Regions from separate parts of the Homo sapiens genome. Here region 2 is linked to region 1. The links come from fine-mapping of genetic effects on gene expression. Tissue or cell type: whole blood. Region 1 holds a variant in brackets; the other region holds the start of a gene. All regions are shown on one strand. Distances are between the middles of the regions.

Evidence for each region. PIP is the estimated chance that this variant, and not a neighbour inherited with it, causes the effect.
Region 2: UQCRC2 starts here. The variant in region 1 is fine-mapped to the expression of UQCRC2 in whole blood (TOPMed, PIP above 0.99).

Annotation. Positions count from the first base shown.
Region 1 is chr16:21,305,042-21,313,150 of GRCh38, forward strand. It overlaps the pseudogene ABCA15P. Among named protein-coding and RNA genes, the nearest start is that of CRYM, 31 kb to the left of the region's middle. The variant G/A (reference allele first, on the strand shown) is at 3,441.
Region 2 is chr16:21,949,624-21,957,722 of GRCh38, forward strand. UQCRC2 (ubiquinol-cytochrome c reductase core protein 2) reads left to right here and starts at 3,738. Exons shown (of 14, transcript NM_003366.4): 1 at 3,738-3,833; 2 at 7,612-7,695; 3 at 7,794-7,943. The coding sequence starts at 3,801. It also overlaps a transcript of PDZD9 not described here. RefSeq lists enhancers at 3,071-3,530, 3,619-4,336, 3,851-4,020, 4,031-4,080.

The DNA of each region.
Region 1 (8,109 bases):
TCAAAAAAAAAAAAAAATTAATCATGTATTAATTGAGATTTGCAGGGCCGTGTGCTTTATATAAAACAATGCACAATGCACTAAGCTCCATGGTGTTTGAGAGACAAAGGAGAACAAGATACCATCCCCACCACTGGGTAGTTTAAGATTATTGTCTGTATCCAGTATATAGCAATTGTAATGATTTCTAAAATGTTTTTCTATTGAGATACAGTTTACATGAAATGAAGTGCTCAGATTTTGAGTGACAGTTTGATCAGTTTCAAAGAATGTGCACACCTAATCAAGACACAGAACATTTCTGTAACACCAGAAAATTCCCTCTTGCCCTTTCCTAATCAATCACAAACCCCTCCCCTATAACCATTGATGTCATTTTTGCCTATACCTTTATATGAATGGAATCATGCAGAAGATACTATTTTGGGTATCTTACTTTGTCTTCCTTGTACCCCTTTGTGAAATCCTCCCATGCCTAGACCTCGACAACTGCTGGTCTGTTTTCTGCCCCTGTAGTTTTGTATGAATTCTTTACGTATTCTGTTTGCCCAGGCTGGAGTGCAGTGGTGTGATCTCAGCTCACTGCAACCTCTGCCTCCCAGGTTCAAGCAATCCTCCCACCCCAGCCTCCTGAGTAGCTAAGGTTACAGGCATGTGCCACCACACCTGGCTAATTTTTTTTGTATTTTTTATCAGATATGTATTGTGAATAAATACCTATTGTGAATAAAATTCTTTATTAGATATGTATTATGAATATTTTCTTTCTCCACTTGCATTTCTGTTTCCTTAGCAGTATCTTTACAAGAGTACATTTTTTTTTTTGTATTTTAATGGAGTTTAATTTACCAATTTTTCCTTTATGGCTCATACCTTGGGTATGCAAAGTAAGAAATCCCTACCCCCTTGAAGGTAACAGAGATTTTCTCCTAAGTTTCTTCATTTTATTCATTCCTCCTGTTTTCTTTTAAATTTGTACTTTTAGCTTCCTTCATTTAGGTCTGTGACCCATCTCGAGTTAATTTCTTGTTCCTAGTATGAGGTAAAGTTGGTGCTATTGTTTTTCCCCCATAAGGATATTCAGTTATTCCAGCACTGTTTTTTTTAAAGACTTCTCTTTGTTCCCTTGGTACTTTTGTGGGAAAAAAAAATTGACCATCTTAGTGTGGGTCTATTTCTGGACTCCGTTCAGTTTCATTGATGTATGTATCTGTGTCTTCACCAATACCACACAGTTTTAATTACAGTAATTTTATATATCTTGAAATCAGATAGTATAAGACCTCTAGTTTTGTTCTTTTCTAAAGTTGTTTTTGACTATTCCAGCACTAGAATTTCTACACAGTTGCTTATTGGAACTTTGATGGGATTGTATTTATTTTCATAAAGGCTCACCTACAATGTGTTGTAAAGCTTCTGAAAGTAAGTAATGACTTGTCAGTTTTAATTGACACTATGGTTATGAGTGAATATGAGGATCTTTTGTTATGTTTGAGGACTATTTTTCTTTGAACTGTTTTTTTTTTTCATTTTTCAAATTTTTTTTATTATACTTTGAGTTCTGGGGTACATGTACAGAACGTGCAGTTTTGTTACATAGGTATACACGTGCCATGGTGGTTTGCTGCACCCATCAACCCATCACTACATTAGGTATTTCTCCTAATGCTGTCCCTCCCCTAGCCCTCCACCCACCGACAGGCTCCAGTGTGTGATGCTGCCCTCCCTGCGTCCATGTGTTCTCACTGTTCAACTCCCATTTATGAGTGAGAACATGGGGTGTTTGGTTTTCTGTTCTTGTGTTAGTTTGCTTAGAATGATGGCTTCCAGCTTCATCCATGTCCCTGCAAAGAACATGAACTCATCCTTTTTATGGCTGCATAGTATTCCATGGTGCATATATGCCACACTTTCTTTATCCAGTCTGTCATTGGTGTACACTTAGGTTGGTTCCAAGTCTTTGCTATTGTGAATAGTGCAATTCACGTACGTGTGCACGTATCTTTATAGTAGAATGATTTATAATCCTTTGGGTATACACCCAGTAATGGGATTGCTGGGTCAAATGGTATTTCTAGTTCTAGATCCTTCAGGAATCACCACACTGTCTTCTACAATGGTTGAACTAATTTATACTTCCACCAACAGTGTAAAAGCATTCCTATTTCTCCACATCCTCTCCAGCATCTGTTGTTTCCTGGCTTTTTAATGATCACCATTCTAACTGGCATAAGATGGTATCTCATTGTGGCTTTGATTTGCATTTCTCTAATGACCAGTGATGATGAGCTTTTTTCCATATGTTTGTTGGCTGCATAAATGTCTTCTTTTGAGAAGTGTCTGTTCATATCTATCACCCACTTTTTGATGGGGAGAACATTTTTGCAATCCATCTGACAAAGGGCTAATATCCAGAATCTACAAATAAATTAAACAAATTTTTTTTTCATTTTTCTAATGGTTATCCCTCCCCCTTCAATTTATAGACCTCTTCATATATATATATGTATATATATGTGTGTATATATACATATATGTGTATATATGTGTGTATATATACATATATGTGTATATATATACGTATATATATATATATGTGTATATATATACGTATATATATGTGTATATATATGTATATATATATGTGTATATATATATATGAGAGATTAGCCCTTTATCTGTGATACAAGTTATTTTCTCCCAGTTTGTTATTTATCTTTTGGCTTTGTGTTGACATTTACTTCATAAAACATATTTGTAAGTACTATGTTATCAGACTTATCTTGATACTAGATTTTGATTCATGGAGACTTTTCCCACTCCCACATTTTATATTTTTCCAAATGACTATCCATTTGTTACAACACCATTTACTATAAAGTAGAATTTTTTCCCAGTTAGTTGGGATGTTACCTATATAATAAACTAAATTTCTATATGTATTTTGGTTTATTTCTAGACTTTCTATTCTGTTCCATTTGGCTGTCTTTCAATTTACGTACCAGTACAACACATTTTTAACTACAGAGACTTTATAGTATGTTTTAATATTTGGTAGAGCTAGTTGCACAGCTTTTCCTATACGTTGTCTTCTAGTAGTTTTATAGTTTCAGGTATTACATTTAAGAATTTAATCCGAATGGCCAGGCGTGGTGGCTCACGCCTGTAATCCCAGCACTTTGGGAGGCCGAGGCAGGCAGATTACGAGGTCAGGAGATCGAGACCATCCTGGCTAACACAGTGAAACCCTGTCTCTACTAAAAATACAAAAAATTAGCCAGGCCCACGTGGTGGTGGGTGCCTGTAGTCCCAGCTACTCGGGAGGCTGAGGCAGGAGAATGGCATGAACCTGGGAGGCAGAGCTTGCAGTGAGCGGAGATCATGCCACCGCACTCCAGCCTGGGCGACAGAGTGAGACTCTGTCTCAAAAAAAAGAAAAG[G/A]AAAAAAAAAAAGAATTTAATCCATTTTGAGTTGATTTTGTACATGGTATAAGAGTCTAATTTCATTCTTTTGCATGTATAATCCACATTTCTAAACTCCATTTATTAAAGACACTATCTTTTCTCCCATTGTGTGTTCTTGGCATCTTTGTCAAAAATCCATTAATTGGTGGTAAATGTGTGAGTTTATTTTGGGGCTATCTATTGTCTTCCTTTGGTCTATGTGTCTGTTTTTATAGCAGTACCATGCTGTTTTGATTACTGTAGATTTGTAATATATTTTGAAGTCAGGAAGTATGATGCCTCCATTTTGTTCATTTTCCTCAAAAATGTTTTAGATATTTGGGGTTTTGTGGTACAATAAAAATTTTATGACTTTTAATCTATTTCTTTGAAAAGTGTCATTGGGATTTTGATAGGGATTGCATTCAATCTGTAGATCACTTTTGGTAGTATGGACATTTTAACAATATTGTTTCAATCCATGAACATGGAATATCTTTCTTTTTATTTGTGTCTTCAAGTTCTTTCATCAATGTTTTATGATTTTCAATATACAGCTCTTTCACTTCCTTGGCTATATTTGTTCATAAGTATTTTTCATAGCTATCGTAAATACAGTTGCCTTTTTTATTTCACTTCAGATGGTTTAATGCTAATGTATAGAAACTTTTTTTTTTTTTTTTTTGAGACAGTTTCGCTTTTGTTTCCCAGGCTGGAGTGCAATGGCGAAATCTCGGCTCACTGCAACCTCCGCCTCCCAGATTCAAGTGATTCTCCTGTCTCAGTCCCCCAAGTAGCTGGGATTACAGATGTGTGCTACCATGCCTGGCTAACTTTGTATTTTTAGTAGAGATGGGGTTTCACCATGTTGGTCAGGCTGGTCTTGAACTTCTGACTTCAAGTGAGCCAATTGCTTCAGCCTCCCAAAGTGCTGAGATTACAGGTGTGAGCCACCATGCCCGGCTGAAACTATTATTTTTGTATGTTGACTTTATATCCTGTAACTTTATTGTATTTTATTAGTTCTAGCAGTGTTTTCACTGACATTTTAGGGTTTTCATGTTATCTGCAAACAGGAACCATTTGGCTTCTTCTTTTCCAATTTGGATGGCTTCTCTTTCTTTTTTTGCCTGATTGCTCTGGCTAGGTCTTCCATTACTATATTGAATAGGAGTCGTAAGAGTGGACATCTTTGTACCTTTCCTGAGATACTTTTGGAAAAAGCTTTCTATTTTTTACTCTTGTGTATGATATTAATGGTGAGCTTGTCATATATAGTCTTTATTGTGTTGAGTTACATTCCTTCAGTGCCTAATATGGTTAGAGTTTTTATCATGAAAGGATATTGAATTTTGTCAAATGCTTCTTCTGCATCTGTTGAGATAATATATGGTCTTTGTCCTTTATTCTGTTAATGTGGTGTATTAATATTTACTTGCATATGTTGAACCATCCTTGGATCTCAAAGATAAGTCTCACTTTATTGTGGTGAGTGAATGATCCTTTTAATATGCTGTTGAATTCAGTTTGCTAGTATTTTGTTGAGGATTTTTGCATCTATGTTCATCAGGGATATTAGCCTGTAATTTTTTTTTTTTTTTTGAGATGGAGTCTCACTCTGTTGCCCAGGCTGGAGCGCAGTGGCATGATATCAGCTTACTGCAACCTCTGCCGCCTCCCACGTTCAAACAATTCTCTTGCCTCAGCCTCCCGAGTAGCTGGGATCACAGGCATGTGCTACCATGCTCAGCTAATTTTTGTATTTTTAGTAGAGATGGGGTTTCACCACGTTGGCCAGGCTGGTCTCAGACTCCTGCCCTGCTCATCTCGGCCTCCCAAAGTGCTGGGATTACAGTCATGAGCCACCGTGCCTGGCCAGCCTGTAATTTTCTTGTATGTCCTTGTCTGGCTTTGGTGTCACGATAGTGCTGGCTTCATAAGATGTGTTTGGAAATATTTTTTCTTCAACTTTTTGGAGTTTGATAAGGATTGGTCCTATTTCTTATTTAAATGTTTTGTAGAATTCAGCCCAGAAGCCATCTGATTCTAGGCTTTTCTTTAATGGGAGACTTTTTATTACTGATTCAATCTTTTTTTTTAATCAGTCTATTTGTTATCAGTCTGTTGTCAGTCTATTTTATCAGTCTGTTATCAGTCTGTTCAGATTTTCTTTTTCTTTGTGATTAATACTTGGTAGGATTAATACAGGTAGGAATTTTTTCATTTCTTCTAGGTTATCTAATTTGTTGACATAATTGTCATCATAGTCTCTAATGATAATTTGTATGTCTGTAGTATCCATTATAATGTTTCCTTTTTTATTTCTGATTTTACTTGAATCTCCTCTCCTTTTTTATTAGTTATTCTAGCTAAAAGTTTGTCTGTTTTATCTTTTTCACAAGTTTTGTTGATTTTTTTTCTATTGTTTCTTTAGTCTCTATTTCATTTATTTCTGCTCTGATCTTTATTTTATCCTTCCTTCTGTGAACTTTGTGCTTAGTTTGTCCTTGTTTTCCTAGTTCCTGGTTTTCTAGTTTCCAATTGTAGTTCCTATACCTAGTTTCTAGTTATAATGTTAGGGTGTTTGAGATCTTTCTTCTTTTTTGATGTAGATGTTTATTGCTATAAACTTCACTCTTAGAACCATTTTTGCTGTATACTATATATCTTATATATTTTTGTATGTTGTGTTTCCGTCTTCATTTGCCTCAAGATATTTTTAAATGATCCCTTTAATTTCTACATTGACCCATTGGTTGTTTGGGAGAATGTTGTTTAATTACCATATGCGTCTGCATTTTCTGAAATTCTGTCTATTTTTGATTGTTAGTATAATACCATTGTGGCCGGAAAAGGTATTTGAAATGGATTTCAGGCTTCATAAATTTATTAAGATTTATCTTGTGGCCTAACATATGAACTCTCCTGGAGAACGTTCTGTGTGTGCTTGAGAAGAATGTGTACAATTGACCCCCCCATATCTGTGTGTTCTACATCCACAGATTCAACTCTGGGCCAAAAATAGTAAAAAAATAATAATATGATAATAATGCAAATAAAAAGCAATACAGTGTAACAAATATTTATATAGATTTTATATTAGGTACTATGAGTATCTAGAGAAAATCTGAGGCATAAGGAGTATGTGTGTAGATTATATGCAAATACTACACCATTTTATATAAGACATTGAGCATCCATGGATTTTGCTATCCTCAGGGGTCTAGAACTAGGCATTAGCATTGTGCCTAGTTGGGGCTTACCTGTAGCCTGTGTCCACTGGTGCCAGCCTGGAGGCTGGGTGTATGGTTGCTAGTCCAGAAGCTAGGTCTGTGAAGAACTGAGTCCTGGAGCCATGGTAGTGTCCCCAGAATTGGTGGGTTCTTGGTCTCACTGACTTCAAGAATGAACCCACGGACCCTCGCGGTGAGTGTTACAGCTCTTAAGGTGGCGCGTCTGGAGTCTGTCCTTTCTGATGTTCAGATGTGTTCGGAGTTTCTTCCTTCTGGTGGGTTCGTGGTCTCGCTGGCTCAGGAGTGAAGCTGCAGACCTTCGCAGTGAGTGTTACAGCTCTTAAGGCAGCGCGTCTGGAGTTGTTCGTTCCTCCCGGTGGGTTCGTGGTCTCGCTGGGCTCAGGAGTGAACCTGCAGATCTTCGCGGTGAGTGTTACGGCTCATAAAAGCAGCGTGGACCCAACGAGTGAGCAGTAGCAAGATTTATTGCAAAGAGCGAAAGAACAAAGCTTTCACAGTGTGGAAGGGGACCCGGGCGGGTTGCCAATGCTGGCTAGGGCAGCCTGCTTTTATTCTCTTATCTGGCCCCACCTACATCCTGCTGATTGGTAGAGCTGAGTGGCCTGTTTTGTCAGGGCGCTGATTGGTGCGTTTACAATCCCTGAGCTAGATACAAAGGTTCTCCACGTCCCCATCAGATTAGTTAGATACAGAGTTTCGATTGGTGCACTCACAAACCTTGAGCTAAACACAGGGTGCTGATTGGTGTGTTTACAAACCTTGAGCTAGATACAGAGTGCTGATTGGTGTATTTACAATCCTTGAGCTAGACATAAAGGTTCTCCAAGGCCCCACCAGAGCAGCTAGATACAGAGTGTTGATTGGTGCACTCACAAACCTTGAGCTAAACACAGGGTGCTGATTGGTGTATTTACAATCCCTGAGCTAGATATAAAGACTCTCCACATCCCCACCAGACTCAGGAGCCCAGCTGGCTTCACCTAGTGGATCCCGCACCAGGGCTGCAGGTGGAGCTGCCTGCCAGTCCCGCGCCGTGTGCTCGCATTCCTCAGCCCTTGGGTGGTCGATGGGACTGGGTGCCATGGAGCAGGGGGTGATGCTCGTGGGGGAGGCTCGGGCTGCACAGGAGCCCATGGAGTGGGTGGGAGGCTCAGGCATGGCGGGCTGCAGGTCCCAAGCCCTGCCCCGCGGTAAGGCAGCTAAGGCTCGGTGAGAAATGGAGTGCAGCACCGGTGGGCTGGCACTGCCGGGGGACCCAGTACATCCTCTGCAGCCACTGGCCTGGGTGCTAAGTCCCTCACTGCCCGGGGCCAGCAGGGCTGGCTGGCTGCTCCGAGTGCGGGGCCCGCCAAGTCCACGCCCACCCGGAACTCCAGCTGGCCCACAAGCGCCGCAGGCAGCCTCGGTTCCCG
Region 2 (8,099 bases), 640 kb after region 1:
TGTAGTGAGCTCAGATCATGCCATTCCACTCCAGCCTGGGCAACAAGAGTGAAACTCTCCAAAAAAAAAAAAAAAAAAAAAAAAAAGAGGGAGGAGGGAGGGAGGAAGGGAGGGAGAGAGAGAAACAGAGAAAGAGAGACAGAGAGAGAGAGAGAAAGGAAAGGAAGAAAAGGAAAGGAAGGAAGGAAGACAGCTATCAATTTACATTGCCAGGGTGAAATTCAACAAAACTGTTTTAGGGTAAAGATCCTCAGATCCACATGGAATTGCCCTGTGGGCAAATTGTAAGGTAAGTTATGTAGCTTTTTATCCTTATAGCTATCTTATTTAGGAATAAAACGGGAGGCAGGTTTGTCTGACATCATTCCCAGCTTGAATTTTCCCTTTGGCTTAGTGATTTGGAGGCCCTGAGATTTTTTTTCCTTTCACACTTCCTAACTCATTTTATCTATGACAGAAAAATGCATGAATGGGGGGAATGAAAGTGAAAGTTAAAGCCAGTATCACTCTGGAACATAAATGCACAAATCCTAAACAAATAAGTAGCAAATTAGGTCTAGCAATATATTAAAAGAATAAAACATCCAGACCAAGTTGGGTTTATAACAGGAATGAAAGGTTTATTTATAATTTGAATCAATCAATATAACTTAACACAGAATAAGACCAATCTGTTCACCTCAATACATGGAAAAAGTATATGTGACCAAAAACAATAATTATAGAATATTAGAAATTGATATGAACTTTTTTTTCCCCCCCGAGACAGAGTCTCGCTGTGTCGCCTAGGCTGGAGTACAATGGCAGTGATCTCGGCTCACTGCAACTTCCGCCTCCCAGGTTCAAGCAATTCTCCCTGCCTCAGCCTCCCGAGTATCTAAGATTTCAGTCAACTGCCACCATGCCCGGCTAATTTTTGTATTTTTTTTTCAGTAGAGACAGGGTTTTGCCACGTTGGCCAGGCTGGTCTTGAACTCCTGACCTCAGGTGATCCACCCACCTTGGCCTCCCATAGTGCTGGGATTACAGGCATGAGCCACTGTGCCTGGCCCAGGGAATATTTCATCAGAGATAATACCTGACAGGGTAGGATTCTGAAAGGAATGGGGAAGGAAATGCCAACATCGAAATTATGCATTGGGGAAGCCATGATTAATGCCTCTGGCCCTAAGATGGCAAGGTAATGTTGTTCCCAAGTATAAACCCACATCACCTTCCTCTGGTGTGTTTTACTCCTACTGTTGCCTGCTTTCTCTTTACATTCTCCCACCCCATACTCACCGCGAGCGCTCAGGCTAGGTAGTTAGGCTCCATAGAGTCAAATTGGACCCCACATTAACGAAACTAACAATTCGAGCTTTCCAGCAATGAACTCATCTGCTCTTCCATGTCTACTCTTTTCCTGTCTGCTGGTTTCCTCTCCCAGGGCTTTCAGTGTGTTCTACGCAGAAACCAGTTCAAGGACTGGGTTTTCTTCTGCAATAAAATGCTGGAGTTGTGGCAGAGACCTCCACAGTGAGAACAGCCACGGAGTTGGCTAGGAGGTGACATGATGTGGAAGTGGTGGATGTGTCCACAAGATGGCACTCCTAATTTGTAGCTTAATGCTTAATAGGACATTTTGCAATTGACAAACTTGGGATTTTATGATTTATGTAGCTGATATCATGAATTATGTTTCAAATCCTGCCACATTTTGAACAGAATTTATTTTTGCCCCTTTCTGATATTGGGTCATAACCTAAGAATGAGAGGACATTATAAGCAGGTGTGGGTGTGTGTGTGTGTGTGTGTGTGTGTGCACTTGAGTGTGGAGACTTTTGTGTTCCTCCTACCTGACCTGAACTGTTGAATGATGAAGTTACAATGATTGGACTCAGGGGTGCAGCTAGCTAACTTGGGAATTGGGGTTTTGAAGTACTGGAGACAGCTTTGTATGCCATGTTAATGAATTTGAATTTTATCCTGAAAAACGTGGCTGTCGTTGAAGAATTTTAAGCAGGCAGGTGGCTTGATCAGAGCACTGCTTCCCAGATTTCACTCAATGGTACCTGTATAACACATTCATGATTTTTGCTGTATCTCCGTATCATCAAGTTACTTAACGTTTTTACACCAACTTTTATTATTTTATAAATGTACTTAAAGAGGAAATTCACTACTAGCATTGCTTGCCATAATCAAAATAAATATATTATTAAAATGGAACAGTGCTAAATAAGGTGTACACATGGACATAGAGTGTGGAATGACAGACAATGGAGACTCCGAAAGGTGGAGGGGTGGGAGAGAGGTGAACGATGAGAAAGTACTTAATGGGTACCATGTACATTATTCGGGTGATGGGTACACTAAAAGCCCAGACTTCACCATTACTGCAATATATCCATATAACATAACTGTACTTGCGCCCCTTAAATTTATACAAATTTTTAAAAGGAAAAAATGGAAGTGTTCATCTATGTACCAACTTAAAATCATCTCACGCACCACTAGTGTTAAATCTACCACATGTGGGGAAACTGTGTGGTATGAATTGGGTTGAGGGCGTCCCCAGCAGGCACAGAAATTGGGTTGGTGCCAGGTTCTTAATGCCCAGATCTTAATTAGAGAGCCCAAGTCCGTTGTAGGCCTGGAGCAATTCAGACACAAGGCAAAAAGAAAGTACATTTGCCTATGCCTTGTAACGTCTACACCACCAGCCTTTCTGAAACTATTGTGCATACGAAGTCATCCCAGGATCTTGTAAAAACACCGATTCGGATCCAATATGGGACCTGGAGTTCATACATTTCTAATCAACTCCTAAATGATATTGATGCTGATACTGTCGGTTTCCCAACCAAGCAACGTAGCAAGGTACGAAACTCTAAAGTCCCTAAAGGGCAGGGACCACGCCTCTCGCGTTGGCATAGTGCCTAGCTCAAGGCACTTTCTGGGTTAACACTCGCTGAGGACCGGAGTGAACGCCCCCGCCCCAAGTCGTCACGTGACTGACTTTCTCCAACTGCCGGTTTCGGCTCACATAACACACCTACTATCCAAAACATTTCTATTTTCCTAACACAAAAACTATAGCTAAGTTTTTATATTCTATGTAGCCCCAGCCTAGGACGTAAATTCCACGAGACCAAAAGCCTTGTGATGATTCCCCGAGGTTGCTGACCCTCCCGGTGTGTCCCGGGCCTGCTCTGGGGGACACAGCGGCGAATACGTTGAACGAGGCCCCTGTTTCACGGAGCTAAAGATCCAGTAAGGACTTCACCCAGCGAGAGGCAACTACGCCGGGCTTCGATACCCAATACCTCTGCAGAAAGGTGGAGTGGCAGGAATCTCCTGAAGCCTCCAACGTCCAGGAACGCGGAAACCCAGGGCCTCCAGTGCAGGTGTCATCCCGGAGGGCGCATGCGGAGTCCCAAGAGAGGCGCGTCCCATTGGACAATGCTGAGCGGAAGAGCCCAAGATAGCGGGGGGAGTTGTGACAGGCTGCTGCAGACGTACTTAGAAAAGGGGTGCATACTGGATATTCAGGCTAGGAGAAGAACGCAAAAAGCAGTGACGTACATTATTCTCTGCATATATTTACTTGGGAAATTGTGCGTCTCCCTATTCTGAGTCTTGGAGGAATTGGACTGGTCCAACCTTATAAAGAGAGCAGTAGAGCGCGGCAGTATAGAGAGTACCTCACGAAGGGGACGTGGGAAAGTGTTAGCGGGGAACGCTGGGAAACTCCCGGCCTCCGCCACCATCTTGCTTTCCTTTAATCCGGCAGTGACCGTGTGTCAGAACAATCTTGAATCATGAAGCTACTAACCAGAGCCGGCTCTTTCTCGGTGAGCTCAGGTGGCGGGTTTGGGAAAGGGCTGGGGAGCAGTGTGTCGACAAGGTGATACGAGGCGGAGGTGTCTGGTCTGGGGTCTGGGCCTTGGGATTCGGTCTGCCCTTCAGCTGAACCCTGCGGGCCAAGTGGGCTGCAGACTGGGTCAGGCTTTGGAGGCCCAGCTCATGCTGTGAGCACAAGAGACCTAACACCGGGAAACCTGAAGAGAGGGGCAGGACGTGAGAGCGGAGTTGAAGCGAGTCCTTGGAGAGACTTCTGAAGGTCACTCCGGTACTCAAGTGCTGGAGAAAGAGACCGTGAAACCCAGGGGGAGCGGGAGGACGGCGCACTTAGCCCCCCACCTTCACTTTATCCGCTGCAGCCTCTGCTCCTTGGTTTATCACGGAGCGTCAGTTTCCCCAGCGAATAAAAGTATAAGAAAGGAGCTAATGCAGATAGAACACTTATTACAGTACCTGGAACTTCATTGTTAAATACTATGGTGTCTTAGTAGTCTAACGTTGCTTTTCTTGATCGTATGTTAGACGGTTCCTCCAAGACGTCTCTGTTTGTCCTCAAAAGCTCCTTAATTAAGTTTCCCCTTCAAGCCTAAATTAAACATAGCTGTCACTTGGGGAAAACTCACACATCAGGGTTATATCACTGTGGGACAGTGGTTATTAAGAGGGGTAAGGGGGAACACTTAAAAAATCATAGCGAGGGACAGAATGCCCCCAGGGAACCGGTGGCGATGTTTGGAGACATATTTAGTTGCAACAACTTGTAAGGAGGGTGCTATTGGCATGGAGAGGCCAGGGATGCTGCTAAACTTCGCCTTACAGCAAAGAATTATCTAGCCCCAAGTGCCAGTAGTAGTACCTGTGTTGAGAAACCCCCCTAGATGGAGATGCAGAAGACCAGACCTGGGCATGGAATGTTCTTATGCTTTATGTTTACATAAATGTGCTGTGGGCTATATCGATTTAGGCTGTAATTGCATTAACCTTCCAGGTATACCTAGACACACCAGTGATTACCCTTGGAGGGAAGCACGGTTAGATTGGCAAAAGACCCCAACATTTCCTTCTCCATTCTATTTTGCAACAGAAAAAGCTCAGAGAAAACAGTTGGAGAGGCCCAAAGTAAACAAATTGCAGTAAACTTGAAAGCAATTATTTATGTGTCTAATTTTAGCACTTTATATAGGAGAATAAACTTAGATATATCTTGTTATTAGAACAAAATAATTTAGAAGATTGCATGACAGTTACTAGGATAATTTGCTGATTTGAATGGGACGATTAAGAAGCACATTACCGGCGGAGCGCGATGGCTCACACCTGTAATCCTAGCACTTTGGGAGTCAGAGGCAGGCGGATCACTTGAGATGAGGAGTTCGAAACCAGTCTGGCCATCATGGTGAAACCCCGTCTCTACTAAAAATACAAAAAAAAAAAAAATAGCCGGGCGTGGTGGTGGTGGGCGCCTCTAATCCCAGCTACTCAGGAGGCTGAGGCAGGAGAATCTCTTGAACCCAGGAGGCGGAGGTTGCAGTGAGCCGAGATCGCACCGCTGCACTCCAGCCTAGACGACAGAGCGAGACTCCGTCTCAAAAAAAAAAAAAAAAAAAAATTACCAACAAAGAGTTACTATTTGGGCACATTTGGTTGGAAAACACCTAAAATCTCACTTGGTAACGGAATTATAGATTATTCATATTTGAATTGCTATGCCCATATATCTTAAAAGTTTACTTTTTGGAAAATTATAGGCCAAAATTACAAAGAAGGTTAACTATACCATACCCAGCAAACTAAATTGATGACGATAAAGTAAAGCTAATTGTAATTCATAACTGAAAAGCAGTACTAAAAGCAAGTGATAACCAGCAGCCAACCTAGTACAGCACTAATGATGTACAACAAACAGCCTTCTGGACAGCACAGAGTGGAGGCATTGCAGACTGTGCAGGGATGTCCGGGAAACTCCAGTGAGGAGGTGTTCATTGGGTCTTGGGAGCACCAAATTTTATTCACTCATCATCTCCTCTAATAACCTCATGAACTTTAGTCATAATCAGAATGATTTGTATGGCATTGTATAACATTTGCCAAAACAAACTGAATAAAATGAATGCATTTTGGGTCCATTATCTAATATTTAATGGGACCCTTTCACCCTACCAGTAACTGCATTTTATATATTGAGAATCTGATGTGGATGAAGCCATTATTAATCTCAGGATGACATACATGTCATAAATGTTTTATTTAGTCAAAAAAACTAAGACCTTTGGTTGTGTGGTCTTAATACAGCACACAAGAGTGAAGATACAATGGAAAATATTGAGGGCTTGGAGGAAGTTGGTATATACTTTGTCTTTTTCTTTTTTTTTTCTTGAGACGGAGTTTTGCTCTTGTTGCCCAGGCTAGACTGCAATGGCACAATCTCGGCTCACTGCAACCTCCGCCTCCCGGATTCAAGTGATTCTCCTGCCTCAGCCTCCCCAGTAGCTGGGATTACAGGCATGCATCACCACGCCCCGCTTATTTTGTGTTTTTATTAGAGATGGGGTTTCTCCATGTTTGTCAGGCTAGTCTCGAGCTCCTGACCTCAGGTGATCCGCCCACCTTGGCCTCCCAAAGTGCTGGGATTACAGGCGTGAGCCACCGCACCCGGCTAGTTTGTCTTTTTTAAAGGTTACTAAGATGATTAAGGAGATGAAACCATTTCAATTGGAAATTAGACTGAACGGATGACATTCATTGGGCAGATAAAAGAAGCAAGAAGCTGAAACCTATAAAAGGTTGTGGACACAGGCCAGGTGTGGTGGCTCCCACCTGTAATTCTAGCACTTTGTGAGGCCGAGGCGGGTGGATTGCCTGAGCTCAGGAGTTTGAGACCAGCCTGAGCTATGGGGTGAAACGCCATCTCTACTAAAATACAAAAAATTAGCCAGGCGTGGCAGCATGTACCTGTAATCCCAGCTACTTGGGAGGCTGAGACAGGAGAATCGCTTGAATCCAGGAGGCAGACATTGCAATGACCCGAGATCGCACTGTTGCACTCCAGCGTGGGACACAGAGCACGACTCCAACTCAACAAAAAAGGTTGTGGATGGGGTGATCTGACACTTTTTCAAAAAATGCCAAAGCTTTAGAACTACACAGAACCATGAAACTTTTATAAGGTAACTGAAAGATAAGAAAATACAGTGATTCTTTACATCATTTAAAAAATAAGCATCAAGAACTCTATAAATCACTAATAAATAGAGGTTTAAGAATGGCTTGGGTAAACTGGTGGGTTAGTAAGTCCATAATAAGTTATGCAGCTAGGCGGGGTGCAGTGGCTCACGCCTGTAATTCCAACACTTTGGGAGACCAAGGTGGGCAGATCACTTAAGATCAGGAGTTCAAGACCAGCTTGGCCAACACAGTGAAACCCCATCTCTACTAAAAAATACAAAACAAAAACTAGCTGGACATGGTGGCACGCACCTGTAATTCCAGCTATTTGGGAGGCTAAGGCAGGAGAATGGCTTGAACCCAGGAGGTAGAGGTTGCAGTGAGCTGAGATTGCGCCACTGCACTCCAGCCTGAGCGACAGAGAGACACTCTGTCTCAAAAAAAAAAAAAAAATGTTATGCAGGTAAATCCTCCCATGGAGGTGGTTATTGCTCCTTCCACCCCCGAACACCCTCTGTCGCTTGGGTACCCTAAGATACCATGCTTTTATATAAAGCACTGTTCTTGTGAGAAATACGTGTAACCTGTGTTTTTTATGTTTAGAGATTTTATTCCCTCAAAGTTGCCCCCAAAGTTAAAGCCACAGCTGCGCCTGCAGGAGCACCGCCACAACCTCAGGACCTTGAGGTTAGTCCCACTAACTTGCTCGCTGGAAGCTATACATGCCTTACTCTCCTTGGTAATACGAAGACATTCATTATATCTCTACTTTATTTTAAATACAGTTTACCAAGTTACCAAATGGCTTGGTGATTGCTTCTTTGGAAAACTATTCTCCTGTATCAAGAATTGGTTTGTTCATTAAAGCAGGCAGTAGATATGAGGACTTCAGCAATTTAGGAACCACCCATTTGCTGCGTCTTACATCCAGTCTGGTGAGTATCTTCACTTCCTCAAGTGTTTGGAAATGCTGTGGTATCTTGGTCCTGTGAAAAAGAAAAACTAAGATCAATGTCTTTATATTTTGATTCCTTGACCTGCCATAACAAATTACCACGGACTGGGTAGCTTAAACCAAATAAGTTTATCCT